Linked DNA regions of Homo sapiens. The protein of the gene in region 2 interacts with the protein of the main gene of each other region in a pairwise test. Each region holds a gene or a part of one and is shown on either strand. Other genes may lie near its edges. The genes, in order: SLC35B4, VSIR, CLRN2 and CNIH3.

Evidence for each region.
Region 1: the proteins of VSIR (region 2) and SLC35B4 interact in binary tests that used the Homo sapiens proteins (3 or more experiments, as listed by UniProt).
Region 3: the proteins of VSIR (region 2) and CLRN2 interact in binary tests that used the Homo sapiens proteins (3 or more experiments, as listed by UniProt).
Region 4: the proteins of VSIR (region 2) and CNIH3 interact in binary tests that used the Homo sapiens proteins (3 or more experiments, as listed by UniProt).

Annotation. Positions count from the first base shown.
Region 1 is NC_000007.14:134,299,909-134,306,943, reverse strand, and holds part of SLC35B4 (nucleotide sugar transporter SLC35B4), read left to right. Parts: intron 1-169; coding exon 170-272; intron 273-2,089; coding exon 2,090-2,139; intron 2,140-4,833; coding exon 4,834-4,915; intron 4,916-5,122; coding exon 5,123-5,183; intron 5,184-6,682; coding exon 6,683-6,792; intron 6,793-7,035. UniProt on the Homo sapiens protein: Antiporter that transports nucleotide sugars across the endoplasmic reticulum (ER) membrane in exchange for another nucleotide sugar.
Region 2 is NC_000010.11:71,756,521-71,763,520, reverse strand, and holds part of VSIR (V-type immunoglobulin domain-containing suppressor of T-cell activation precursor), read left to right. Parts: intron 1-1,494; coding exon 1,495-1,923; intron 1,924-2,596; coding exon 2,597-2,653; intron 2,654-7,000.
Region 3 is NC_000004.12:17,510,873-17,518,175, reverse strand, and holds the start of CLRN2 (clarin-2), read right to left. Parts: upstream 3,012-7,303; 5' UTR 2,910-3,011; coding exon 2,657-2,909; intron 1-2,656. Other genes in the region: QDPR (dihydropteridine reductase), read left to right, coding at 6,122-6,226. UniProt on the Homo sapiens protein: Plays a key role to hearing function. Required for normal organization and maintenance of the stereocilia bundle and for mechano-electrical transduction.
Region 4 is NC_000001.11:224,731,313-224,738,347, reverse strand, and holds part of CNIH3 (protein cornichon homolog 3), read right to left. Parts: intron 3,786-7,035; coding exon 3,642-3,785; intron 1-3,641. UniProt on the Homo sapiens protein: Regulates the trafficking and gating properties of AMPA-selective glutamate receptors (AMPARs).

The DNA.
Region 1 (7,035 bases), on a different chromosome or scaffold from region 2:
GAAGCGTTTTGATATGTACTTAGTAGTTGACATGGCATAATAGTGATGCAATCTTGCAACGCAGAGGAAACAGGCAAAATGCCTTTTTAGCCAAAAATATATATTTCCTATACTTGATTTTCTTGAAATCCTAGATTCTGTTTGATGAGCTGTTCTGTCTGCATTTCAGGTACTATGCCATAATGGTGACCATGTTCTTCACCGTGAGCGTGGTGAACAACTATGCCCTGAATCTCAACATTGCCATGCCCCTGCATATGATATTTAGATCCGTAAGTGCTGCCGGATCACGTGTATATGTTCCTCTGAAAAGTATAGTTAAGTAGATCGATTGAATATATGGCAGAACTAGAAGGTTCTTGTAGTAAGTGGTCTTGGGTAGAAGAATAGGTTTGTGAATGCGTGAGCAAGGGTGGCTTTCATCTGAGAAGGCAAAAAGAGAAATCTCAAAGTGGATGGTTTACTTTTATTCTTCTGAGGTCTAATGAGTGATTAATAAAAAGAAAATTAAATTTTCCCTAGGAAACAGATTTTACCTTCATTTTCCCTCATCTCTTTGATTTTATATTCAAACATGCTATTAATGTTATTTAACTTATTTCTTATCTCTTCTTCTTTCATAAAAGTACATTTACTTCTAGAACATGAAAGAGATACTTGTCTTTTCTGATTTTTTTTTTTTTTTTTAAGCAGAGACTTGAGATAATAAAGGGAAATTCTTGATGAAGGTAGGGTTTCTCCCAAAGCACTCCAGGCAAAAAAGGCTGATAATTGTGGTGATAACATTTCCATGTGGTCTGAGATTTTTGTGAGATTGTACTGTTCCTGAAGGGAGTTTCCAAAGCAATTATAATAAGGTGACCTTCAAAGCATTGAAAACATAGTGGACTTTCAATAAACACCTGTTGATTGATTGTCACCTTTTTAGAGAACAGAGAGATCCTTGCATGACTTTTTCCATTAAAACTGGTCAGGGGCTGTGCACAGTGGTTCAGGCCTGTAATCCCAGCACTTTGGGAGGCTGAGGTGGGTGGATCACCTGAGGTTGGGAGTTCGAGACCAGCCTGATCAACATGGGAAACCCCATCTCTACTAAAAATACAAAATTAGCTGGGCGTGGTGGCACACGCCTGTAATCCCAGCTACTCGGGAGGCTGAGGCAGGAGAATCGCTTGAACCTGGGAGGCAGAGGTTGTGGTGAGCCAAGATCGCAACATTGCACTCCAGCCTGGGCAACAAGAGCAAAACTCCGTCTGAGGGAAGAAAAAACTGGTCGGGGGTAGAAGGTGCAGGTAATGGGGAGAAACTTATTAAAAGCTCTTATAAATTAGGTGATGGAAATTTTGACAAAAATAAGTCTGTGATATCATTTATTCGTGCTAGCCCTGGCTTCAGCACTGAGCAATTACAGTTGACCCTTGAACAACATGGGTTTAAACCACGTGGGTCCACAAATATGCAAATTTTTTTCAAACAAATATGAAAATACAGTATTCACGGGATGCAAAACATGCCTATAAGGAGGGCTGATAATGACTATATTGAGAATTGATCCTTTTTATTCTCATTGTCATCTTTAAAAGGTTTTTTAAATATATATATATATACGTATATTTTTGGAGACGGAGTTTCGCTCTTGTTGCCCAGGCTGGAGGTGCAATGGCGCGATCTTGGCTCACTGCAACCTCCACTTCCCGGGTTCAAGGGATTCTCCTGCCTCAGCCTCCCAAGTAGCTGGAATTACAGGCAACTGCCACCACGCCCAGCTAAGTTTCGTATTTTTTAGTAGAGACAGAGTTTCACCATGTTGGCCGGGCTGGTCTCAAGCTCCTGACCTCAGGTGATCCGCCCACCTCGGCTTCTCAAAGTGCTGGGATTACGGGCGTGAGCCACCGCGCCCGGCCATCATAGTAGATTTTTATGGTTTATACTTTTGCCATCATAAGAACAACTAAATCTTTACTAATTATTCATCCTAGCTTCCTTCATTCCATGTTTTTTCCCCTTGCCCATGTTCCTATTCTCTCGAATTACGTTGTTTTTTTCCTAGTGCACTAAACCTCTCTGTTACTGTTGTCTCCTTTTGCAGGGTTCTCTAATTGCCAACATGATTCTAGGAATTATCATTTTGAAGAAAAGGTAAACAATACACTTCTGTATTTTGTGTATGGAAATGATACCCTGAGCCCCTGTCCATAAGCTAGTCACCTGGATTCCTTGTCCCAAAATAGTGATAAGTTTGCTTCTGGCCATCTACCTCTTTTCTTAGTTCTTTACCAGTGAGGCCCAATCATGCAATGTCCTGAAGCAGCTGATCAGGTAAGAGGCCACACCTGTGGTGTCTCTGTGTCGAACTGAATAGCTCTTGGCATCACTGAATTTTAGTGTCATACTAACCTGCGAAGCCAACTTACAAAGATGATAGAGAGGTTCACTGTGCAGTATGGTCACCACTAGCCACGTGTGACTATTTACATTTTTCAAAATTAAAGAAAATTAAATATTTAGTGTCTCAGTTTCATTAGTCACGTACATTTTTTTTTCTTTTTTTTGGAGACGAGGTCTCACTCTGTCATCCTGGTTGGAATACAGTGGTGTGATCTCGGCTCACTGCAGCCTCCACCTCCCAGGTTCAAGTGATCCTCCCACCTCAGCCTCCCAAGTAGCTGGGACCAAAGGCATGTGCCACCATGCCCGGCTAACTTTTTTGTATTTTTGGTAGAGATTGGGTTTCGCCATGTTGTCCCCGCTGGTCTCAAACTCCTAGTCACATTTTCAGTGCTCAGTAGACTCACAGAGCTGGTAGTGACCACGTTGGAGAGCCCAGATGTGGAACATTTCTAACATCTCAGAAATTCCATGGGATACTTCTGCCCTAGAAGATGCTTATCAGTACAGCATAGCAAACTAAGGAATGGTTGTACATATTAAAAAGGAAATTCCTAAAAAGGCCCAAATAGCCAAGAAGATGGAATGAAAGGTTCAGGACTGTTCTTTGTGACCATCACCAATGGCTCTCTTTGGGACAGGAGCAGGGGGGACAGGAGCAGGAAATACCAGAAGTACCTGGGATGCTTTTTCAAAGTTTTTGTCTGTCACCTTCATTCTGAGGTTCACCCCTCACTCCTAAGGAGGAAGGATGTTAGCAAGAGACAACACATACAGTTTGGGAAATTTATCAGGGAAAGTTCACTGTTAAGACCAAAATTATACAAGTTGATGGCAGCGTTTCAATGTATTTGATATCCAGCCCCAAGCTCTCTATACATGCTTGGAAAGTAGCTGTAAATTCAGAATGTGAGAACCTAGAGTTTTTAAGTATTAAGGGCTGTGTCATAAAAAGAACAATTGTCCTGTCCTACTAGGCTTCATATCATGGACCGTTTATCTCCTGAGGCTTATGAATTCCCTGAAAAGTACTACTGTAGTTGATTTCTTTCTTCTTGGTTCTCTGCATTTAAACATATATATATATATACATATGATGGTCAGGTTTATTACATTTGAAGTGATCATCATGCTTCTTATAGTGTGGAATTCGCCTTGGGACAGGCCTGTGCTCTTTCCCAACCTTTGATTCTGGCTCATGACAAGGATACAAAAGAACATGTTATAAGAGAAATTGTATTCTCCTGATAGTGCCCCAAAATGTTACGGGTCTTTCTCAAGCATCTGTTGCCCTTAAGAACTTGTTCTGAGTGTGTCATCTTGCATCTATCTAAGCCTTTTGACTCTCTTTTCTGTGTGTATCTCTTTCCCATTGAGCAGGAATTTCCATAAGTTAACTTTCCAACAGAGTAAATTAGTAACTTCTTATCTCCTTTTATCTTGGGTAGAAGCCCCTCAAGTTCATAGTGTGCTCCTCATTCCAGGATTTGAATATCAAATTTATATTCACCTTACCCATGCCTTTATTATTATTTTTGGCCTCAGTTGTAAACCTCTTCAGCGTGATCTTTGCAGACTGAAGAGGTTCATTATTTTTTACCGTACCTCCGCTCGTACCTGCTTCCTCCCCAACCGCTCTCTAGCGTGGTCCTCTTGGCCCTTTTAGTCCCTTTCTCTGCCCATTAGCTAGTTCTGCTGGCCTTTTATGAGGTACTGTGACCAGGACAATACTATGTATTTGAGTAGAAAACCTGGGATGGTTCATCTTCTTAATTTCTTTTAATCCTTGCCTGAGGCCTTTTGCTTGATCACCAAAAATCTGAGAGGGTGCTAATGATACTAGCTAATGTGAAATGCTACTGTTATTACAGCCCATAGTTCTATAATCTGAATATCCTCCCCCTTATCCAACTATGCCAACATTTTAAAACAATGTTAAGTCATTCAGAGATTTAAAAAAAACAAGCCTCCCCCAGAGAATGGATGATTGGATTATTTTCTGAGCATTGAATCCTGCTGCTTGCACCTGATAGCCTGTTTTTCCACTCGCACAGTGTGTCTTAGGACACAGATTTGGTCCCCCTAAAGACAGGAAAAGCAACAGATCCTAGTAAGGACTGGGTCAGCCTTTCATCTGGACTCTTGAGAGCAGAATGCAACATCACATCTGGTCTATTTCTGTTTTTGTCTCCTGATGAAATAATCGATTGGTCAGCAAATTGTTGGAGACAGACTAAACAGTACTAAGGAAAAGTGTTGGTTAGAAACTAGTCAGTATCCTGATTCATTCATATGCATACTTCTGTGGACTCTGCTGGAAAGTAATCCTGTCTGTCATACTTTAGTGATTTGTACTTTCATGCACCATCTGACTGTAAATATCACTGGGAAATTCATATCTGTGCTTTCCTAAGGTGTTTTTCTTCTTTTTTTTCTTTTTTGCAGATACAGTATATTCAAATATACCTCCATTGCCCTGGTGTCTGTGGGGATATTTATTTGCACTTTTATGTCAGCAAAGCAGGTGGTAAGAAGCTCACAAATTATTTTATGTTCACTACTTGCTATTGGGGCCCAGTTACCAGGCAATTAATACAATTCAAATTTTTATGTAATACAAAGATTTTGAAAGAGAAGAGGGGAGGGAAATGGGTAACATAAATGTTTCCCTTGTATGTCGGCACCTTGCACGTAGTTCTGCTCTCTGTACCTAGTTTATTTTCTTATTTCCTAGACTTCCCAGTCCAGCTTGAGTGAGAATGATGGATTCCAGGCATTTGTGTGGTGGTTACTAGGCAAGTACAATAATTATAATAAAGCTAATTGCCTCTGCAGTTGTGTTTGCTGAGTTTTCTCCTAAGAGAAATGTTTCTTGGCAAGAAGCTTCAGCTAAACAAATTATGCCATGGAAGAGAGGCACCTGGGATCATATTTCTCTGAGCCTTAGCGTTCAAGAAATGAAAAAAAGAAAATGCCCCCACATTCATGGCAGTATGTTCTACAACATGGATCCATGTTTTTCTTGGTTGCCACTGGTGTAGAAAGAAAAGTGTGTGTCTACTTGCACATCACATCCTTTGAATGTCATCCGTCTCTTCACGATCTGTCTGCCAAGTTGAAGCTTCTGCAAGAGGGCACGTTAGAGCAATTGACTCTTTAAATTTCCGAGGGACTCATTTCTAAAGACTTATTTTCTTCAGAGGTTAGCTGTTCCATATGGCAGTGTTCCCAAACCTGACTGATTATCAGAATCTCCTGGGGAATTTTTAAAAATACAAGGATCTCTGTGGAATTAAATAGGCAGCTCCTGTAGAGCTTTGTTCTCACATTTTTTGATATGGAGCTGAGACTCGTTCCAAGGGCTTTCAATGACAACAATAACGGATTGAGACTGACCAATTGGAAGAGAAATAGCAGTGAAAGAACTGTGTTCTCCTTGCTTCTTGGCTTTGAGACTTTATCCCTTGTTGCTGTTTGTAACATAGAAAGATCCTTATGTGCTATTAGAAAAATACTCCAGAAGAAAAATTTGCAAAGGATATGAACATATAGTTCATGGGGGAAATAGTAGCACCCAACAATTTTAGGTTCAGCCTCACTAGTCTAGTAATCAGAGAAATGCAAATGAAACCCATGCAATACCTTTTTATGTTGGCCTATCATACTGGCAAGATGATAAATGGTTATCTCATTGCTGCTGAGGGTACAGTAAAACAACTATTTTTATATAATAAAAATAGTTTGGGTATAAATGGACACAGCATTTATGGAAAAATATTGTGTATTGTATTTTTTAAATGTCCACAGCCTTTGACTCAGTAATTCCACTTATGAGGGTTTATCCTAAAATATATCAACATTTGTTTAAAGATTTGTATACAAGGATGTACATTGATTTTAATAATGAAATAATTGGAAATAACCATCCTCATACATTTAAGTGTGCTACATCCATATCATAGTCATTAAAAGCATTCTATTTAAAAAATTTTAATGACTGATTTGAAGCAAAATTCCAGGCAAAAGCTCATGAAAAAAGCAAGATATAAAATTCCATATGCAATCTGATCCTGTCTTAGTGTAAAAAAATTTACATAAATGAATATATAAGAAGATGTAGAAAGCTGTAAAGGACTAGATGGTAATAATGTATTTTTATTTCTTTTTACAGTTTTGTACATGTTCTACAATTAGTTCATAATATTTGCAGGACTTTAAACAATAATGTTCTTCAAGAAAAACATCTGGAAATGAACAAATGCAGACATCTTGTCACCTGATGTTTGTTTTTTAGGTATTGGGGCATTGACTTTTGCTCTTCTGATGTCAGCAAGGATGGGGATATTCCAAGAGACTCTCTACAAACGATTTGGGAAACACTCCAAGGAGGCTTTGTTTTATAATGTAAGCAACTTCCTGAACCTGGGAACGTGAAAATTCCTAAGTTGTAAAATGTTACTTCAAGTGAACTATTAATATTCTCTGATGTAGTTGAAGGTGTATTATTGGTAGATGGCTTTGAGACCCACAGACTGAAGCAGTTTTGATGGGATGCTCTGGTGGGTTCCAAGTCACAGTTCACTACATGAGATGATCACGATCAATCAAAGCAAATTAAATTGTGTCTGCATATTTAGCAAATCCTTT
Region 2 (7,000 bases):
GGGTCCCAGCCTGCCGCCGAGGGTCCTGGGCTCTAAGGGCAGGGAAGGGGCATCTGAAGGAGGATGTGGCATTATATTGGTTCTGGGCAATGCCCCTGGCTGGGGCAATGAAAAGGATGTATCAGTTTGGATTCTGTACATAGTTCTAACCCTCCTTCCCTCTCTGCTAGACCCACAACAGCCTGACATGCCATTTAAAATAAAAATACCACTGGCCGGGCGTAGTGGGTCACACTTGTAATCCCAAGACTTTGAGAGGCCAAGGCAGGAGAATTGCTTGAAGCCAGGAGTTCAAGGTCAGCCTGGGCAACAGAGGGAGACTCCGTCTCAAAAACAAATAAATAAATAAAAATAACACCAACGCATAATAATTATAGCTATCCCTCAGATGTCTGCAGAGGGCATTAGAGCTCACATCTTGTGTTCTCATCTTTCCCTCATCTAGTCCTTTTGCAACCCTGCATTGTAGCCAATAGTTTTCTCACTGCACAGAGGAGGAAACTGAGGCTCATACAGTTAGATAGAAACGCGGCCTCTATCCAATATTCTGTTTTCAAAAGCTCATGGTTTTGAGGGTCAACCCAATTAAATGCTGGAGGATTGGGATAAGGCAAAGTGGACCAGGGAATTGCTTCATTTGCTTGGTGAAAAAAACCAAACAGAACTAGACAGTTTTCTAAGTTTGGCTGGAAGGACGTGCATGGATGAGATGACCTTTCATATACTCTCTGTCCCGGTCCCTCAGACACTGGGTTTTCCCATTTTCACACTATCTTGCCTAGGACACCCTTTCTACTGGCTGAAATCCTATCTATGCACCAAGTCCAAAGACTCTCCCTCCTTCAGGAAGTCCCTGACTGTCCCCAGAAGGCTGTTTCCTCCCTCCTCCAAGTGCCCTGAGGGCTGGCATTGGATTGCCTTTGCCATGGGGTTCTGCTGTCGGGAATGCAGGCCTCGTCTGCTCAAGGGGAGGCCATGCATTCAGCATGCAGGTGAGATGCAGCACCTGGCCCAGGCCTTGCACACGCAGGTGCTCTCTTAGTGCTCCCTGGCAAGGATGGGAAGGCATGTTCAGTCCTAGGAGTAGGAAGGGGCAGAGGTGTTGATGGCCCCTACAGAGCGGCCAAGGACAAGGAGCTGCTGTTCGAAACAGCCTTCCTGCTCCCCAACCTGCCTCCCACCCAACAGGTTTTGCATATACTCTACTGGGAAGAGGGACACACCCGACTGCATCACTGCCCTCCAAGTCTCTCCCTGCCCTGTCCAGCATCCAGGAGCACCCCTAGTTGGGGAAGCTTCTGTGACTCCCCCTACAACAGCCTAGGATGGAGTGGGGTTTGTGAACAAATGCAGAAGGCAGTCTTAGGGAGGTCAGCTGACATGCCCCTGGCCTGTGGCTGGGAAGTAGCAGAGGCTAAGGTTCTTCCCCGCTCTGGGGTTGCCAGGAGTAGCACTGGATCAGTCAGGTGACAGGGCTCTCCTCTCTCTGAGCAGGTCCGGTGGCAGCCTTCAAGGTCGCCACGCCGTATTCCCTGTATGTCTGTCCCGAGGGGCAGAACGTCACCCTCACCTGCAGGCTCTTGGGCCCTGTGGACAAAGGGCACGATGTGACCTTCTACAAGACGTGGTACCGCAGCTCGAGGGGCGAGGTGCAGACCTGCTCAGAGCGCCGGCCCATCCGCAACCTCACGTTCCAGGACCTTCACCTGCACCATGGAGGCCACCAGGCTGCCAACACCAGCCACGACCTGGCTCAGCGCCACGGGCTGGAGTCGGCCTCCGACCACCATGGCAACTTCTCCATCACCATGCGCAACCTGACCCTGCTGGATAGCGGCCTCTACTGCTGCCTGGTGGTGGAGATCAGGCACCACCACTCGGAGCACAGGGTCCATGGTGCCATGGAGCTGCAGGTGCAGACAGGTGAGGGCATCCTGCACGTGACAGCCTGGCGTGTGTGGAGGGCTGCCTGTCTGATGGTGTGACCATTCATGACACTGTGCTGGGCAGAGTGTGAGGCTGCATGGGTAACACTGGCACTCCAGGGAGTGTGTGGGTGAGATGGGGTGGTCAAGGGTGTGTGGAGTGTGGGTTTGTAGTTAGCTGGAGTGATGGAGAGGGAGGGTGTACCTGGCTCCATTTGTGACAGTGAGACTTTTTAATGTGTGAGGCTGTAGGTACCTGGGCTGGGAGTGTGACTGCTCATGATGACATCATGGCTGCTGTGGGTATAGGCATCAGTGGGACTGATTGGTGCCCTGGGGCATGACTCAGTGGATGGCTGAATGGCTGTTGGAGAATATATGCGTGTGTGTGTCTGTCTGTTCAGGTGAGAGTGCAAGGGCCCATGGTTCGGATAGAGGTGTGGGCACCAGCGGGTATTCACATGCCCCTGGGAGTGGCATGAAAATGGGCAGGGTGAGAACATGCCAGGGTGTGTGTGGGTGCACACGTGTGCAGGCTGCCACTGGGCCAACACTGCCGAGTAGGCACTAGCGTGAGAACCTGGGGCAGGAGGGGGACACTGGCCTGGACAAGCCTCCCTGGCCTCCTGGGCCTGACACCCACCTAATGGCCCTTCTGTTTGTTCCCACAGGCAAAGATGCACCATCCAACTGTGTGGTGTACCCATCCTCCTCCCAGGATAGTGAAAGTAAGGGACCAACCTCTTGCCCCTTTTGGGTTCTCTGTTTTCTTCTGTCCTCATCCTGCACCCAGACCCTGTTTGGAACTCTGGCCTCATCACCCCAAGCCCTCAGAACCCCCCGGTCCTCCTCCTTTTCTGCTGCTGCACATCCCTTCTGCTTCCTCCTTGGTGCAATCCCCAGAAGCCCACTCTCCTTCCATCTGCTCTGGAGTCTCTGCTCCTCTTGACTCTCTGGAGTGGCTGTGCCTTGGCAGTGACCTTTGGCCAGGGCAAGTGCCTCATGACAGGTACTGGGTGCCCCAGGCAGCTAAGTGCCGCCCTGCCCACCAGCCCCCTATGGCTTGGGAAGGCTGGGGGTCCTCTTGGCCTAGAATTAAACTACTTCAGATTTCTGTGTTCTGTGTTTCTATGTTCTTCAGATGTTCTCTGTTGCAGGGGAGGGAGGAGGAAGAGGTTCAGGAAGGGGAACAGAACTACCTTTCCTGAGTTCCCACTGTGCTGGGCACTGGACTAAGTCTTTTTAAGTATTATTATCTCAGGGATATATATATATATATATGTGTGTGTATATACATATATATACACATATATACATACATATATATGTATATACATATATATACATACATATATATGTATATACATATATATACACATATATACACACATATATATGTATATACATATATATACACACATATATATGTATATACATATATATACACACATATATATGTATATACATATATATACACACATATATGTATGTATGTGTGTGTGTATATGTGTGTGTATATATATGTGTGTGTGTATATATATGTGTGTGTGTATATATGTGTGTGTGTGTATATATGTGTGTGTGTATATATATGTATGTGTGTGTGTATATATATGTGTGTGTGTATATATATGTGTGTGTATATATATGTGTGTGTGTATATATGTGTGTGTGTATATATGTGTGTGTGTATATATGTGTGTGTGTATATGTGTGTGTGTGTATATATATGTGTGTGTGTGTGTATATGTGTGTGTGTGTGTGTGTGTGTGTGTATATTTTCTGAAACACGGTTTCACTCTGTTACCCAGGCTGGAGTGCAGTGGCGCGATCTGGGCTCACTGCAACCTCCGCCTCCCGGATTCAAGCGATTCTTCTGCCTCAGCCTCCCGAGTAGCTAGGATGAGATTACAGGCGTGCACCACAATGCCTGGCTAATTTTTGTATTTTTAGTGGAGCTGGGGTTTCACCATGTTGGCCAGGCTGGTCTCAAACTACTGACAAATGATCTAACTGCCTCGGCCTCCCAAAGTGCTGGGATTACAGGTGTGAGTCACCACGCCTGGCCTCAGGAATTTTTTTTTTTTTTGAGAAAGACTCTCTCTCTGTCACTCAGGCTGGAATGCAGTGGTGCAATCACAGCTCACTGAAGCCTCAAACTTCCAGATGCAAGTGATCTTCCTGCTTCATTCTCCCAAGTAGCTGGGACTACAGGCACGCATCACCATGTCTGGTGAATTTTTAAAAATTATTTTTGGGGTTAGGTGCGGTGGCTCACGCCTGTAATCCCAGCACTTTAGGAGGTCAAGGCAGGCAGATCGCTTGAGGCCAGGAGTTCGAGACCAGCCTGGCCAACAGGGTGAAACCCCATCTCTACTAAAAACACAAAAATTAGCCAGGCATGGTGGTGCACGCCTGTAGTCCCAGCTACTCAAGAGGCTGAGGCAAGAGAATCGCTTGAACCCGGGAGTCAGAGGTTACAGTGAGCCGAGATCGCGCCACTGCACTCCAGCCTGCTGATAGAGCAAGACTCCATCTCAAAAAAAAAACAACCCAAAATTTGCCTGGCATGGTGGCAGGCATCTGTAATCCCAGCTACTCGGGAGGCTGAGACATGAGAGCTGCTTGAACCTGGGAGGCAGAAGTTGCAGTGAGCCGAGATCACACCACTGCACTCCAGCCTGGGTGACAGAGCGAGACTCTGTCCCAAAAAATCAAAAAAATCACTTTTGGTAGAGATGCACTCTCGCTATGTTGCCCAGGCTGGTCTTGAACTCCTGGGCTCAATTGATCTTCCCACCTTGACCTCCAAAGTGCTGGGATTACAGGTGTGAGCCACCATGCCTAGCCTCAGGGAATTCTTATAAGAACTCTATGAAGTAGGCATCACCATCTTCTCTGTATCCATGGAAAGAGAGGCCTAGAGATGTATGCTAACTTGCCCAAGCTCACATAGCCCAGGGTAGCATAGCTGGGATCTGGCTGCAGGCCTGCTTAGCTCTGCATACTCACCTTCTTCCCAGCTTGGGGCAGTGCAGTGGGTAGCAGTTAGCCCCCCGGTGCTTGCCAGAGAGGTGCCCTACAGGGTAAGAGGGCACTGCCCTAAGGGTGCCTGGCGCTGAGAGGTTGGGTGAGAATACCCAGCAGCTTGGAGACAAAATGCAAGGGCACCTCCCTCTTCTGAGAAGAGGTCTTGGCTTCCACACCCCTCTATACCCTGTATGTGTCAGACATCCAGTGGGGACCAGCCCCTGCTAGGCCCTGGAGATACAAAGGCATCCAGGAGGACATGCACGAGGACCTAAGCCGGAATGGGGATCAGCTAAACCACGGACCCAACAAAACCCAACTCAAAGGCTACAGTGACTTTTTACTCAGCTACCCTTTTTTCAAACCAACAAACAGGCCAAGAGCAAAATTAGAACATGCATTTTGGTCAGAGCCATGTTGGTCAGGCTGGTCTCGAACTCCTGGGCTCAAGTGATCTACCCGCCTTGGCTCCCCAAAGTGCTGGGATTACAGGATTGAGCCACTATGCCCAGCCCCAGTGCCAGCCTCTTAATGTTATCCTTGGGAAGTAAGAGTGTAGCTTGACTATGAAATAACATGAAAGTACAAGTTAACCTGAGGTAGGGGAATGAGACTAGAGAAGTTGGTGCCCAAGGAGCTCCTGCATTGCTGAGGGGCTGTGGTTTCTCAGTGAGCTCAGAGAAGGGGTCTAGGCAGCTCATCTCCCTTTGAACTTCTTCCCACCCCCCAGCGCAGCAGAATGTGCTGTCTGCTTTCACCCAGCTTCCTCCCTGGGAAACCAGGCAGCCCAACCCTCAGCAGCCGAACTCCCTCCTCCATATATCCCCGTGGGCTACCAGGCAGGCCCTGGACAAAGGCCGCCTGAGCAGGCCAGGCCCCTCCCATCCCACCCTGCTGTGTCAGGGCCTGGCACACTCCTTAGTGCGGTGTCGGCAGCTACCTCTGCCAGCGCCTGATCACCTTCCCAGGATAAGCCTGGCTCTGGATGGTGAGTGAGTATGCCTGCCTTCCCCTGTGAGTGCCAGCCCAGGCACTGGCCACGCTTGGGGGAAGGGGTGGGGAACTGTGGCGAGGCTGAGCTCTGCAGAGATGCCTACGGCTTCAGAAAGCAGCTGGATCCACAGACTTGTCCCCAAACCTCTGCGCCCCTCTGCCCCAGCCTCAACTCAGCCCAGATCGTAAGGAAGCCTCAGGCTCTCAAAGTGAAATTAAGTCCTGATCTGATAGAGGGTCCACATAGGGGAAATCTCTACCTGGGGATAGAAGTTAGGCAGGGATATCTGGCCAAGCTCACCCTCCAAAGGCAGATAGGGAACAGGTATCAATGAGCACCTGGCAAAGCTCACAAAATGTTGCTTACTAGCCGTCCAGAGGAGACCTGCTTTGATCACTAGAAGAGAGTGCTTTGCAACTGGCTTCTCAAATATTGCCCACAATAAGGTCCTTTGATGGGGGTTTTGAAATACTGAGGTGTCTGGGTTATAGAATGTCTTTACTTTCAATATTCCACGTCAAAATGCAGCCTTGCTAAGATCTGCAGGGAACCTGCTGTAATGTGGAGCGGAACTTGCTTTGTAATTAGCATAGCAACTGTTCCTGTACCAGTGGGTACTTCTAAAGTGACTGAAAACAGTTTGTTCTCATTTGCAGTATGAACAAACCTCCTGAAAGCTTGTTTACGCTGTCGGATTGTAGAGCAAAACAAAAACAGCCTTTATTCCCAAACAAATAGCGGAAAGGCAACATTTAGACCACAGCCATTTACCTCTCAGAGCTCTTTGGGGCGAAGTTGACACTGTGACAAGGTATCCCAGCCCATCTTTTGGCCCTGGGAAAGGCTAAAATTGGGAAGGAAATGCGTTTATGTTGGTTGTGGTTCTGAGGGCACGTCTGTTCCCAGCTAAACTCCTGCAGTCAGCAGATGCCCTGAAATAAATCAAACCTCCTCATGCTGTTGGGACAGCGAAGCTTCGTGTACACCTTTTTGGAGGGCAATTTAGCAATAGCCTAAAAGAAAATGCACATACTCTTTGGCTCAGCACTTT
Region 3 (7,303 bases), on a different chromosome or scaffold from region 2:
GGCTGTTTGTGAACGAGACCCAATAAACCTCCCCATCCCAGAGTTTGCAAAGCATTTTCACTTACGTCCCCATCTACACTGATCTGCGACTGTGGGGATTATTTTTTTTTTTTTCTACAGATGGATAGTGAATGGCAGAAAGAGACCCCAGGAGAAACAGACTCCTGGTTGTGGGAGGCTCTGATATACCCCGTAGCTGCCTCGAGGTTACACTGTGCTAGAATTAAAAGCTGTAAATCTAAAGGAGACTAGACTGGCACTATCAGTGTCCCTGAGCTGTACTGGGGTAAAGCCAGCCAAGCACAGGAGGAACCTGGCCCCAGGCTCCTCGTGAATGCTTTGAAAGAGAATCACATCCAAGGTACTGCGAATGGATGTTTACAGACCCTCCTCTGAGACAACCCCAGGGCAGCAGGAAACAAAACCTTCTCAAATACGCTCCTACTCAGGGACAAGAATAAAATGTCCTTTATGCTTCTCACAGGGTTCTGATGCTTTCCAGACCAGACCACGTTAGATGAACCCAGGGGAATGTTTCCCATTGGTGTCCTTCTAAGAAGGAAGAAGGAGGAAGGCAAGAAGTACTTACTGAGTTCCTCCAAGGCTCAAACAAAATATGCATTTGTTTGCAGCTTCCTACTCGAAGCAGTTTACATTTCTGTGAGCTGGGAATGGCAGGGGTCTGGTCATTAGGTTAATGCTGGCATGTGACTGCTGTTTAATCTTCTCACCCCATTCAAGTTTCAACGATTTACCTGTTGGGGTTCAGAAACCAACACCCCTAAAATATGAAGCTTTGTGAAGAAGTCTCAAGGTCTCTCTGGCCTCCCCTCTCCCTCGTGTCTCTCCATTCTTTGTCTGTCTCATAAGCACAGGATGAGGTTGTTCTCTGACATTCCCTTACCTGCCTACATCCAGACCTACCAAAGAAAAAGACCTCTGGTCCCTTCCCTGAGTGTTCATTAATTGTACCCATATCACAGGAAGAAAGACTAAAGTCTGTTAACACAGCTGGACAGACTTTTGTCACAAACCAATGTCTGCTCTGTGGGCTCAACAGACTTTGTCCCAGCTCACTGTATGTTCTTTAAGCCCATTGAATTTCCCTAAAAATAATTTACTAGTCCCCTAAAATCATCCACACTTCCCCATCTCTCTTTCCCCTAAGATGAAGAGGATACAACCACCTGTACCCCATTGAGATAGCGGACAATCACTCTGTGATTTTTCCCCTATGCATGCTAATAAATGTGTAAGCCATTTTCCCTATTAATCTGCCTTTTGTCAGTAGATTGTTTAGAGAACCTTCAGAGTGCAAAGGGGAAGTTTTCTTGACCCCTAAAGTCCCGAAGACATCCTTTATAGCAAAGCATCTAGTTCAGAATCGAGTAGTCCATGTAGTTGTCATGGTTAGCTTTTAGCATTTCTTTTTTTTATTTGTTTATGTGTGTGTGTTTTCAAGTTTTATGTTATAATTTTGATGGAGCTATTTGTTCAATATCCAGGGTCTAATCTAATTGCTAGGTAAATATAAATATGCCCAGACATATTGATCTTGAATATACATAACAAATGTAAATTTTTGTGTGTTTAAATGATGACAATTTGTATTATATTTGTCAACGGTTCCAGCTTTTTGTCCTTATAAATTTAATACGACATTTACCTTGGCCAGATTTCTATAAACTACTACAATACTGAAATATAGAAATCAAGGAATGAATACAATTCTGTATCACCCTACATTGGCATGGTATTGATTAATTACGGTTTTGTGCAGACACTTTTCACCAGTGATCTCATCGATTCAAAAGGCTTGCAGAATATTGCCTGTTTTGTTTTTTCCTTTCCAGAAGCCCGTTCCTAAGTCCAGCTTGGATTCCTGTTTGTGCAGACTGCTCTGCTTACATCCTGGGCAGCTCTGATGCTACACTGAATGCCAGCCAAAGTCGGTGCCCGCTCACGTTCACAGAGAACAGGCAAGTGCCTTGCTTGAGGTCTCCCCACCAGTAAACTTTCCAGTAGGGGTTTCAGCCAGGGTAGTCTGATTCCAGAACCCAAGCACAGTGCCCCTTTGCATTTTCTCAGACTATGAAGCTTTTACAAAAGTAGATGTGGAAAGGGTCATCATGCTTCCCAAAGGTTCAGTTCTGCAGGCAGCCTCCACCCACTTGTTGTGGTCATGTGGCATGGGTCTGGAGTCCGGCTCTACTGTTTCCTGGCTGGGTGACCTCAGGTAAGTTATGTAACCTCTCCAAGCCTCAGTGTACTCCTCTGGAAAATGGGAACATTAACAATTCCTTCTGTATAACTTTGTTGTAAGGCTTTAAGGAGACAAGTGGCGTGAGGTGCTTACAATGTCTGACACGTGTAAACTCTCAATATTTTAATAGTCATAATTAATAGAGGTAAACTGCAAAAATGCACAAATCCTTATTTCTAATGTTTCTATACATCTCTACAGAAAAAGAAAAGGAAGCAAGGAAGGAAGGAAAGATCTTTTTGATGTGGATCCAGAACCCTTGGCTCACTGTGGACTTTGACATTATGCCTGACGTTGAGGCAGCAGCCAAATTCCACAATGAGACATAAGCACTCTTACACATTAACAAAAATGAGTGCCTAGAATCAGCTTTCATGCTCCCAATATACTCACTCGTGAATTGGGATTGGCGGCCCCCAAGCCCACACTGCCGCACTTTACACCCTCGGAAGAGCCCGTAGTAAATGTCCCCAATGAACTTGACCAGCTCTCTGTCTGTGGCGTTGACCAGATCCACTCCAGTCTGACAAAGGATTTTCCCACTCAGCCAGTGGGGCACTACCAGGGCAACGATGATCAGGATGAAGGAGGAGAAGCTGAGTAAAGACGCCAGCCCATACCACGCCTTTTTGAACCATCCAGGCATGCTAGTGGGTGCAGGTCATCCCCAAGGTCTCCGAGCAGCAGCGAGGGTCATTGACATCTTTCAGATACTCGGCAATGCTCTGCTCCAAGGTCAGCTCTTCCAAACACTCTGTTTCAAGGTTGTAGGTCCATCCTCTCGTCCTCCTTCAGCGCAAGCTTGCACAGTCCATGCTTCCTACAACCACATCCAGAAGCCTCTACAGAGACAATCTTCACCTGACTATGTAGCGGAGTGTGTTACTGAAGGAAGTAACCTTATATCTCCTCCTAGACTAATGTTTCAGCAGACTGTTTAACTGTTCCTCGTTTCAAGTATTTAAATAGCCCTGGTGTGGACCTCGTAATGATAAAGGAGTTAGTAATAAGCAAAATCAGGTAGCTCTGAAGATTAAGAGACGCAAACCAATCTCAAAAAATGCATGTGTTAGAAGGAAAACAAAAACAGAATGATTAGCACTTGAATATTGCCAACAATGCGCAGTATCAAATGTCGATCTCGCTGATGCATGGGTGCCCTGGCATTTCTTTCTCTGAAATGTCACTGCTGTCAGAATCTTTAGGACTGTTATTAATACCATCAAATGACCCCGGTTCTTGGGGCTTTAATATTGAAATGTGTAAATAGGGCCTTATGAATTTCTCACTGTGTGAATCTGCTGGGGGTAAACTGTGACTAGAATTACTTTGTGGCTGTTGGGGTAGCCTGGAATCCAACACTTAACATTGCTCTCACCCGTCCCTCCTTCTACGTTATCTGAAATGGGAGAGAAAAGTGTTTTTCTAGTGTATTAGCAAATAGTAGCCACACTGCTGGGGTATTCATCTCTTCTAATAGTGGAAGATCTAGGCTTTCCTTTTAATCTGTAGATACTAGGAATGAAATATTCTTTCCTTTCTATCTTATACTGTGGACTTTGACATTTTGACTTTTACCTTATTCCTGAATATCAACTTAACATCATGTGAGACTGGCAACAGTCACTCTATCCATATCTCTGGGGAGCAAAGTTGGGCAAAAGTGGAGCAGTAAAATTTCTTAGTTGGTCACAGAAGCCTGAAGGGGGGTTCAGGAAGTTGCACTGTTAACCAATAGGGGTCCCAGGAATCTCACTTGGAGAGTGTCAAGGAAGCAGAGGGACACATTAATGGAAATGTCAGTTTCCTTCCTCGCAACTGGGGCTCACTTCAGTGGCCACTCCACAATGAAAATAAAAATGAGAATTTCTGAGCCTGGGCAATGTAGTGAGACCTTATCTCTACAAAAAATAAAAAAAAAAAATAGTTGGGCCTGATGGCGTGTATTTGTAGTCCCAGCTACTGGAGGCTGAGGCTGGAAGACTGCTCCAGCCCAGGAGCTCAAGGCTGTAGTGAGCTATGATCATGCCACTCTGAGTAACAGAGTGAGATCCTGTCTCTTACTATATATACAGATGAGTGGCACTTTACCATGTACAAAATGCAAAATGCTTTGACCATATGCTTGCTCACCTCTGATGCTCCAGCAACCCTTTAAGGTAAACAGGAGATGCACGATTTCAGCCATTTCTCTCATGAAAAACTGGATGTCAGTGCTGGGGCTGAAATTCAGGTCTTTGAATTACAACAGCTCATCTTCATCCCAGTGACTTTGAAACAGCAAATGTTTTTCTGGTAAAAAATAACAGAATACATATAAAAGGCTCAGAAGACTGCTTGGCACATTAAGTGATCAATAATGTTAGTTCACGTTCTTATTTTAACATTAAGCATGCTTTGACAAGTCAGGACTTGCGTAAATATCATTGAGTCATATTTCTGCCGTCAGTGAGGGACCTGTGTCAACTTTTGGTGTTTTGAGGGTTAAGCAATTGTTTTCAGAAAAACTCTAAGGGAAACACTTGATTCCCAACAAGCCTTTGTCTTGCTGAACAAAGGTGTGGTTAAGTGGAACTCTAGCTATTGAAGACCTGTGTTCAAATTCCCACTCTTCCAGACAAGTGTCTGTGACTCTCATGCCTCAGCTTTCTAATCTGCATAGGATTATCGTGTGGAGTAAAGTGAAATAGCACAGGCAGATCACTTAGCGCAGTGCCTTGGATATAAGGAGCACTAAATAGATGGTGCTCTCCTCTCCATCCAGCCTCCTAGCAGTTCTATTTCTGATAATGAAGCTTCTGACAACAAAATGTGCTGCTGGCTGCATCCTCTTCTCTAGTGACATATTTCTGCATGCTTTACCTGGCACAAGTTTACTGAACAAACATCTGTGTCTGCTGTGTACAAGGTTATATGTGGATGGGAAGTGACACAAAGATGTATGTAATACAGGGTTCTGCTATCAAGAAGGTTATGAGAGTGTTAGAGCTCTGGTTCTCTATCAGTGATGAATTTGCCCCTAGGAGACAACTGTTAAATCTGGAGATATTTTTGATTCTTATGAGTGAGGGGTAGGGGTTTGCTATTGATTTCTAGTATATGCAGGCCAGGGATGCTGTAAATATCCTACAGTACCCAGGGCAGCACCTGTCACAAATAATTATCTGGCCCAAAATGTCAGTAGTGCTGTAGATGAGAGGCTCTGTGTTAAAGATACAGGCCATGGGCAGAAATAACTAATATACAAGGGAGAAAATGCCAGGATCTGTGTCTGGCGATGGGTGGCATATAGTAAAAGGGCCATTTGGATTAATGGGTATAAATTTACGGTTAGATAGAAGAAATAAGACCTAGTGTGGTTTGTCTCGTCTCGGCGGTGGACTTTCAGCTCCTTGAGCGGAGCGACCTCTTCTGTTTTTTTGGCAGGTGGGAATACTTAAATCTCTATTTTGATGCACAATTAAAAATAAAAAATTGCCAAAACAGTGGTCGAAAATTGTACTATACTATATTTTACATGCTTACACTTCACAAATTAATGCTCGTAAAACACCCGCTCTCCACCCTCCTCGCCCTTAGCCCGGCTCGCTGCACGCCCCGAGGCCCAGCACTTGCTGGCGGGTGGGAGGAGGGGCTTCGCCGATGTCCCCGTCCCAGGGGCAGGGCCTGGCCGAAGTTACAGTCCCTCCGGGTGGCGGGGCGCCCCGAGCGTGGCAGCGCGCTAGGCGGCAGCAGCGGGCGCGGAGCGGGGCGCGGCCGCCGCGCGTTCCCTCTTGGCGGGGTTGGCCGGCCGGGGCGGGGCGCGGCGCTCCGGCTCGAGGCATTCGGAGCTGCGGGAGCCGGGCTGGCAGGAGCAGGATGGCGGCGGCGGCGGCTGCAGGCGAGGCGCGCCGGGTGCTGGTGTACGGCGGCAGGGGCGCTCTGGGTTCTCGATGCGTGCAGGCTTTTCGGGCCCGCAACTGGGTAATGCTGCGGGCTGGGGCTGCTGGGTCTCCGCGGGGGTGGCCGGGGGCTTTCGTGTGGAACCCGGCGGGGGGCAGTCTAGAGGAAGGTGGGGGCCCCTGTGCACCCCCTGACTCGTGTTGCTTGCACGTGCGCGCACAGGTCTACGCGTCTATTCCTGTTTCCGAGTGCGTGCGCACGCCAGTCCCAGGGCGCTGGGCCTTTGCTGTGCAAGGAGGTGCTCCGTGGGCCTCCGCCAGACCCAAAAAGTCCGGCGTGACTCGGGAGAGAATTCCAAAGGGGAGGAACGGGAGCAGGGGTGAGAGGACGGAGAGAGAGTGTAGAAGGAAGGCTCTAGAATGAGACAGCCCAGTCCCGGTTACTAGTCATGAGACCGCGTATTGATTACCTAACGCCGTAGGACCTCGGTTTCCCCATTTGTACAACGGAGATTCTGACAGTGAGAGTTGGGACGATTAGATGAGATAATTGGTGTCGTTGCACATAAATTACCTGACGCCTGGTAAAAACTGTTTAAATGCTGTCTATTAATGTTACTATTACTACCCACCCCTGTTCTTTTAGCCCCATTGGATCTGACAGTTTGAAGGCTCAGCACGGAAAAACGCTGACGGCTTCTTTGCTCTGCAAAGACTATTTCAACTACTTTGCATAGTCAGGTGTCAATTTCCAGGAGGCGGCAAGTCGGAGCAGAGCTGATACATGGCCAAAGACCCTTGACCTCAGCCGCTCAGCAGGCCTCAGCAATTTCCCGGTGGAGACACTGCCAGCGGCAGCGTTCTGGGAGCTTAGTTAGCAGCAGCAGCACAGCAGCCTGGGCAAGAGTTCCCCTGGGACCAGAAAAAGGCTTTCAGGATTTTCTTTAAAAAAAAACTATCTAATTTTTATAGATGAAGGGGGCAAAAGTACAGTTTAGTTACATGGATATGTTGTGTAGTGGTGAAGTCTGGGCTTTTAGTGTAACCATCACCCAAATAGTGTACATTTACCAAGGTTTTCTTGTTGCTCAGAATCTGGTACAGGAATATGCTTCTGAAGAATTCAGTCACACCACTCCCTTCCTGCCACCCATCTGCT
Region 4 (7,035 bases), on a different chromosome or scaffold from region 2:
AGGGCGAGAAGCCACATTCTAACTCCAAAGCCAGTGCTTTTTGCATAACAGTACTAAGCCTCAAGTGGATACCTTTGTTTACTCACTTTCATTCGTTATGCCAGACACTATTCTCAGTGCTGGGGAAAATGGTGAGTGTGCAGCCCCAATTCCTGCCTTGAGGAAGCATACAGCTAAGCTGTAACAACAAACCACGAGGATTCAGTGAGTGCCAGGCACGGGCCAGGACACTGCAGACGCAGAGGTGAATGAAACCAACATGGTCTCCAGTGTCAAGGAACAAGTAAATCATAAATAACATAGATGGAGAGAAATAAACCTGAGGAGGAACAGGCATGATCCAGAATAACCACGCAGGAGGGTGGTCCTACTACTTCAGGTCGGAAAAAAATCTTTCTACAGAGCAGACACTGTTCACACTGGGCTCACTAGCTAGTATTAGTATCTGCATTAGCTAGTCCCCTTCTAACACAACCCTCAAATATCACCTGGTCCACAAGGCAACCTGAGAAGTGGGGTGATGGGTGCCATGCGGTTCAAACAGGATAGAAGAAAGAGCACAGGCTCTGAAGCCAGATGTTGCTAATTATTAGCAGGGACCTGAGACACATTTCTTAACCTCTCCGAAGTCCTCAGGAGCCCCTCAGGGAGCTCAAACTATAAACTATCAACCCCGTCTTCCCCGCTGTTGTGTGGGTCTCTAGCCCTGAGCTCAGTTCAGACATGGCTCTGCATACACGAGTCCCCTTCCCTCCCTCCCACGGTGGCCTGCGCTGACGCTGCTGTGCTCTCCACCAGCTCCGGATCTGAGGGGCTGGCAGCTCCTAAGGTGGGAGAAACAGAGTCTTTTAAGCAGCCCCAAAGAGCACCAAGGGGCCAGATTCAACAAAGAATGTGGGTGCCCGTGGCGGCCACCCAGGGTCCCAGTGAGGCTGCAGGAACTGTTTCCAATTTTGTTTTAGAAACAGAGTGATTAACACATGTATCATGAAGGCAGGGCCAAACTGAAGTAATGAATTAGAGGACAAACAGTCAAACAGACTGTCTGGAACACACTCGGTTACAGAACAATCACACCCATCTAACCGAGAGGAGCTGCCAAGACCTCCCTACCCCACCCCCTCCCACCCCCGCAGCGGAGCACGCACAGCCGCTTCCCTCCCTGTGAACTCATATGGCTTCTTCCCTGCGACGCCTCGGCTCCAGCAGTTACTGCAACAAAACTGAAATGAGGGAAAGTCTCGCCTCTGTCTTCATCCACACTGAGGTGGATCCCAGGCTAAAGGGGCAGGAGCTAATGAAAACAATGGTCTCATTCTGTTGGCTTAGAGGAGAGACAGTGCTGTCTCTGGGGACAGGCCACTCAGCCCATGACTCTGCAGAAGGGGAAGTCTGTGGCTCCACAAAGAAAGCAGGGTTGAGCACACTGCAGGGAAAAAACCTAACCTCCAAGGTGGCAAGTCCCTAAGCCCACGGCGGCTTTGTCCACACTCTGTAGGTCTCCCAAGACAGAAACCCATCTGACAAGCCTTTGGTTGTTAAATAGTTCAGACTTGGAGTCAGAAAGACTTAGGTGAACCCACTGGGCACCGTAGAAATCTCCGGAGGCTTCAAAGACCGTCAGGCTCCCTGCAGGCTGGAGCAGTAAACATCCCAGAGCACCCCACAGAGTCTGCGGACACTGGGGATGTAAAGGGGAGGGAAGGCAGAACCAAGTAGAATGCTCCAGAGCCACCAAGGTGTGCACCAAGATTGTCCAGAGAGCTTGTTTAAAACGCAGAGCCCAGCCCTGGAAAGTTTGAATAGGTAGCTATAAGCCCAGGAATCTGCATTTTTAAAAAGCACACCTTCCTCCCTTCCTTACCCCACACTTTGATGAAGACTTTTCTAGAGGTTTTCTAAGATAGCCAGCAGTTAAGAGCTACTGGGCACGGTGGCTCACGCCTGTAATCCCAGCACTTTGGGAGGCTGAGGCGGGTAGATCACATGAGCCCAGGAGTTCAAGACCAGCCTGGGCAACATAGCAAAACCCTGTCTCTACAGAAAAATACAAAAATTAGCCGAGCATGGTGGTACATGCCTATAATTCCAGCTACTCAGGAGGCTTAGGCAGGAGGATCCCTTGAGCCTGGAGTTCAAGGTTGCAGCAAGCTATGATCCTGCCATTGTAGTCTAGCCTGGGAGACAGAGTGATACCCTCAAAAAAAGAAAAAGGAAAAAGGAGTTCAGTCTTTGAAATCGGACTCAAGATGTACTACTTACAGCTGTGACACTAATAGCTGGAATTCAGGAAAATTATCTAACTTCTCAGATTCAGTTCATTTTTCATATGTGAGTGAGGATAGTATTTATCTTATAAATTGAGCGATACGTACAAAGCTCTGAGCACAAAGCCTGGCTCATTTTTAAATGTCAGAACTTTGGGAGGCTGAGGCAGAAGGGTCACTTGGGCCCAAGAGTTCAAGACCTGCCTGGGCAACACAGTGAAACCCCATCTCTACAAAAAATTTTAAAATTAAAAAAAAAAAATATAGCCGGGCATGGTGACACACACCTGCAGTCCCAGCTACTCAGGTTAAGGTGGGAGAATCACTTGAGCCAAGTTCAAGGCTGCAGTGAGCAGCGATGGCACCACTGCACTCCAGCCTGGGCAAAACAGTGAGACCCCATCTTTAAATAAAAATTAAAAAATAATAAAAAATAAAAAATGCTGGACAAATGCAGCCACATTCTGGCCTGCCACAGCCCAATCCAAACCTAGGGGTGGCGTGCAGTCCAACATCCCGACCCCTCCTCCTCTTCACCTGGCTGCTGTCAACCATGCCCTTTTGGAGACATCACCGGGAGGTTTGGAGATCACCATGGCCCTGCCACAGGTAATGATGGAATCGCAAGTGACAGGTGAGAGTCCCCAGAGATGAGCCAAAGAGGAGCAGGAAGGAGGAGGAGACATTTGCGGAAAAGGCACTCTCTGTGGTGTCAAACCACAAGACAGTCTGTTTATAGCTATCTGCTTAGTTAGGATGTTCTGAGCGGAGAGGTGAAAAGAAGGGACACTCCTGAAACAGGACTGCAAAGTCAGCAGGTTTTTCTTAATTGGAATGGTGTTATGTAATATTGGGAAAACTGTAAATGAAGCATTTAGCGACACAAAATGCCACTTTATGAACCGTGACAGCCACTGTGGGGCTGGGGTGGGGAGTTTGGGGCCTCTGTTATGGTTCCCAAGAATCCTTGGGGCAAGGGACAGTGAGGATGAGCCTGAGCCCCTGTGGCCACAGGCAACCTGCTGGGCTGAGCTGCAAAGTCGTGAGAGGCAGGAAGCCCTATAGGGAAGAAGGAGTAGCCAACTGCACTTCACCAGTTATCTCCAAAGGGATGTTGAGAGGGTGTTTTCACTGCGTGGCCCTAAGGATGTGCCGATCAGCAGGCAAGGCCTCCTGCAGGATCTCCTGCCCCCTTACTTGTTTATACAGAAGCCCTTGCTCCTGAGCCAGAGTCAGACAGCTGGGACTACACCTGAATGGCCATGACTCCCACCCTCGCACGCCATCTCCCAAAGGACGCCTCCCAGAGGCCAGCCTGAAATTCTCTTCCTTTTGCTGCAGGAGTCAAAACCACCAGGAGGGGCAGATACTCACCAGTAAAGGTAGTAGAAGAAGGAGAGGAGATAGAAGGCCAGCTTACACCAGGCCTCCTTCTGACAGTAACTCAAAGTGTCGGCATTCATGACCACCGGTGGGTCGTAGGCTAGTTCTGAGCTATCTGCTGGACAGTGGAAATACCTGCAGGGAGAGAGGACATCATTGTCTCTGAGGTCCTGGTACTTCTGGCGTAACCTGGGCAAACCCTTCCGATGCAGGGCTTCTGTCGAGCAATCCCTGCCAAGCAATTGCCTGCCTTCTGCCCAAATCACAGTTGAAGCACCGCTGAAGAGTGGCTCAGCCACTATCTTCCAGCAGGTAGTAAATCCCCAAATACTCCAATCCACTGGCATCATGGCAATTTCACCCATATACAAAGCTGCTCCAACAGAAGGGGAAATGTGTCACCTGGCGTTGCCTAGGAGTCTGAGGAAGAGCCGCCTCTCAGGACAAGTGCAGGCAGAGGTAAAGGGCTATACCACCACTGCTGGGATGCCACCATACCTCCATTCTACCCTAAAACTACTTTACACAGACCCTTATTGAAAATCCTGAATACTTCGGGACATCCTATTCTCACTTGAGCGCAGAGCAGTTTACAGGTGCTTTCCTTCTTGATAGTGGGACCTAGAACTCAAAAAGAACATCAGCCATCTGTCGGGAGACAGCGTGCCCTGGACGGCAGCTGGGTGAGTGAAAGAACGTAGGTGGGAAAGAGGAGGAGGGGGAGCAGCTAACGCGAACTGTGTGTACTTCAAAATACTACGTTCCCAAGGCTCACCTGGCCACAGCCCCTGAGGAGGGGAGCCGTCAGGCTTGGTGAGACCTGGGGCAGGAGTCTGAGCCTCCTGAGTCCCTTGGGAAGTGGTCGCTGCCCCCAGGACACTGCCCCCAGGGACCTGGCCACAGCCTCCTGCCGGAGCCCAAGAACAAAGTACAGCTGGAATCTCTCAGTGAGTTCCTTTTTCAGTCATTCTGGTAAAGCCACCCAGAGGCCAGGAGTGCAAATAAATGGCTTCCCTGGGCTCTGGGACAGACAGTGGTTCTCAATGGTGGTAAAGGGCCCAGGGAGAGGGCTCCGACCGGGAGATTAATCACACTGGCTTTGAAGAACATCCTGCAATGTAGCAACTCGCAGATCCGGAATCTCAGCTCCCTCCTCCTTCCCCTTCAGAGAATTGCACTGACGTTATCTGTCACTGACACTGTGCTGAAAAGAAATCACAAGCCAGATTCGATGACAACTGCCAGCTCACAGCCCTCCAGGCCACTCATCTCTCCTCTTCCTGGGAGCCAATCTCAAAAGCTATTTGCTGTCACTGTGGTTTTATTCCCAGGTGACCTCATTAAGTGGAGGCAGAAGGGCAGGGTGGCCATGTGGCTCCGTGGAAACAGCAAAGGCCCTGCCAGTCACCAGTCACCACATTGACTTTCCTTGGGTCAGTCATTAACCCATCTGAGCCTCAACTTTCTCATCGGTGAAATGGGGATGGAATTGCCCACTGCAAAGGGCTGTTGTGACCATTATGTGAGGCGATGTATGCAAATAACCTGGGAAGAACAGGTACTGAGTCAACAGCAGACAGTTCTATTTCCTTTAAGCAAACTAAGAGCCAGAGCAGGAGGGGACTTTCTCTGTATGTGAAATGTCACTGGTCTGGACCTGTTGGGAAGGAGGGGGAGTAAAAAGGGGGATAAAGGGTGTACAAGGGCTCTGGTTTTTAAAGGACTCCTCCCCTCCTCATTCTTTTTTTTCTTTCATGTTCTGAGAACTTACTAATTGCCAGGAACTAGACTAGATCCTGTCAGGGATTCAAAAAAAAGGTAAGACAAAGTCCCTATTGGCAAGGAGATTGCAGCCCCTCCCTTCCTCCATAGAGATCAACTTTCCTAGTCTACGGACACTGGCTGCCTCTCCTTTTCCTCCCTTTTGGACAAGCGCTAGCCCCACGAAGCAGTGCCCTGATCGATGTTTTGTCCATTAATCACATTTCTGATACCCTGCCTTGACAGCCCCCTACTTGAAGGACCTTGGGACGAACTCCTTTCCTGGAGGAGAAGAGCCAGCCCCTGGGGCAGTGTGTCAGGTGGCAGGGACTCAGACTGGAATTCGTACAGAGGTGGGGTGTAACCTCAGCCCTGCCACGTCCGAGCTGAGCAACACAGGTTAAGTTGACTTAACCTTTGTGAGTCTCTGTGTCCCCATGTATCAAACACAGAAAATGAAACCCAGCTCACTTGGTTGTTGTGAATCCTGGATCTTCTATTTGACTTCTCTCTAATTCAGATGAGAGCAGATTGCCTTTACTTAAAGTGAGGCTTCTCGATGTAACCGAATCTTTTTCCTTCCTCCCTAAATCTGAGATTTCTTCTACCCTGCTGGCCCTGGTCAATGGCACCATCGACCTCCCGGCCACGCAGCCTAGAGGCTTTCTCTCCCTCACCTGCACCCAATTATGGGCCAAGGCTTATCCAGTTCACCTCCACAGCTTCTCTTGTTCTCTCACCATTCTGACTCCCACCACCTGGGTCAAGGCTCTCTCACCTCTCCACCTGGAGTTCCCACCATAACCCCCTCATTGGATTTCATCCTCAATATTTCACCCTCTAACCCATCCTTTACACTGCTTCCCAGGCCACCTTCCTAAAAATCAGATCAGGTAATGCCACTGTCTTCTTCTAAAGCTTCTGATCATTTTTCATTACCTAGAGAATAAATTAATTCCACCTTCCCCATCAAATCATTTCAGGCCCTCCATACCATACTCTCAGCTGCCTGCCAACCCTGTCTCTTCTTATTTCCCTCCAAGAACCCTACATCCAACCTCACTGAGCAACTACTGTTTCCCAAACACAACAAGTGTTCTCTTAACTCTGGGCCTTTGCACATGCTGGGCCCTCGCCCTGGAATGTGCTTTTCCAATGTCACTCTTGAGTCTAATTTAAGTGCTTCTTTCTCTATGCTCCTACCAGTATTCCTCATATGTCTGTTAAGAACATATTTCCCTCCACCACTAGGATGTACGTTCCTTAAGGGTAAAGGTTTTGCTTTACACTTAACGTGAAATCCCTCACAATGCCTGGCGTGTACTATGTATCCCGTATGTTTTCTAAATGAAGGAGTGCATGTCTTAGGTGTGGCTAAATTCAAGCCAGATTTTATGGTACAATAAAAATGATAAAACACTTTGGGGTCCAATGCTCTGGCAGCAAAGGGTCAAGGGCAGGCAACTTATCTGCGCAAATACCTTCTCTACTATTTAGATATTCCCCCACCTCTGCCTCCTGTGTCCATATGGTGACTCTATTTTACAAAAAGCCAAAAATCACATGATCTGACACATGGTCTTAGCAGGGAATAGAATCTATGAAATTATAACTGTCCCAGAAA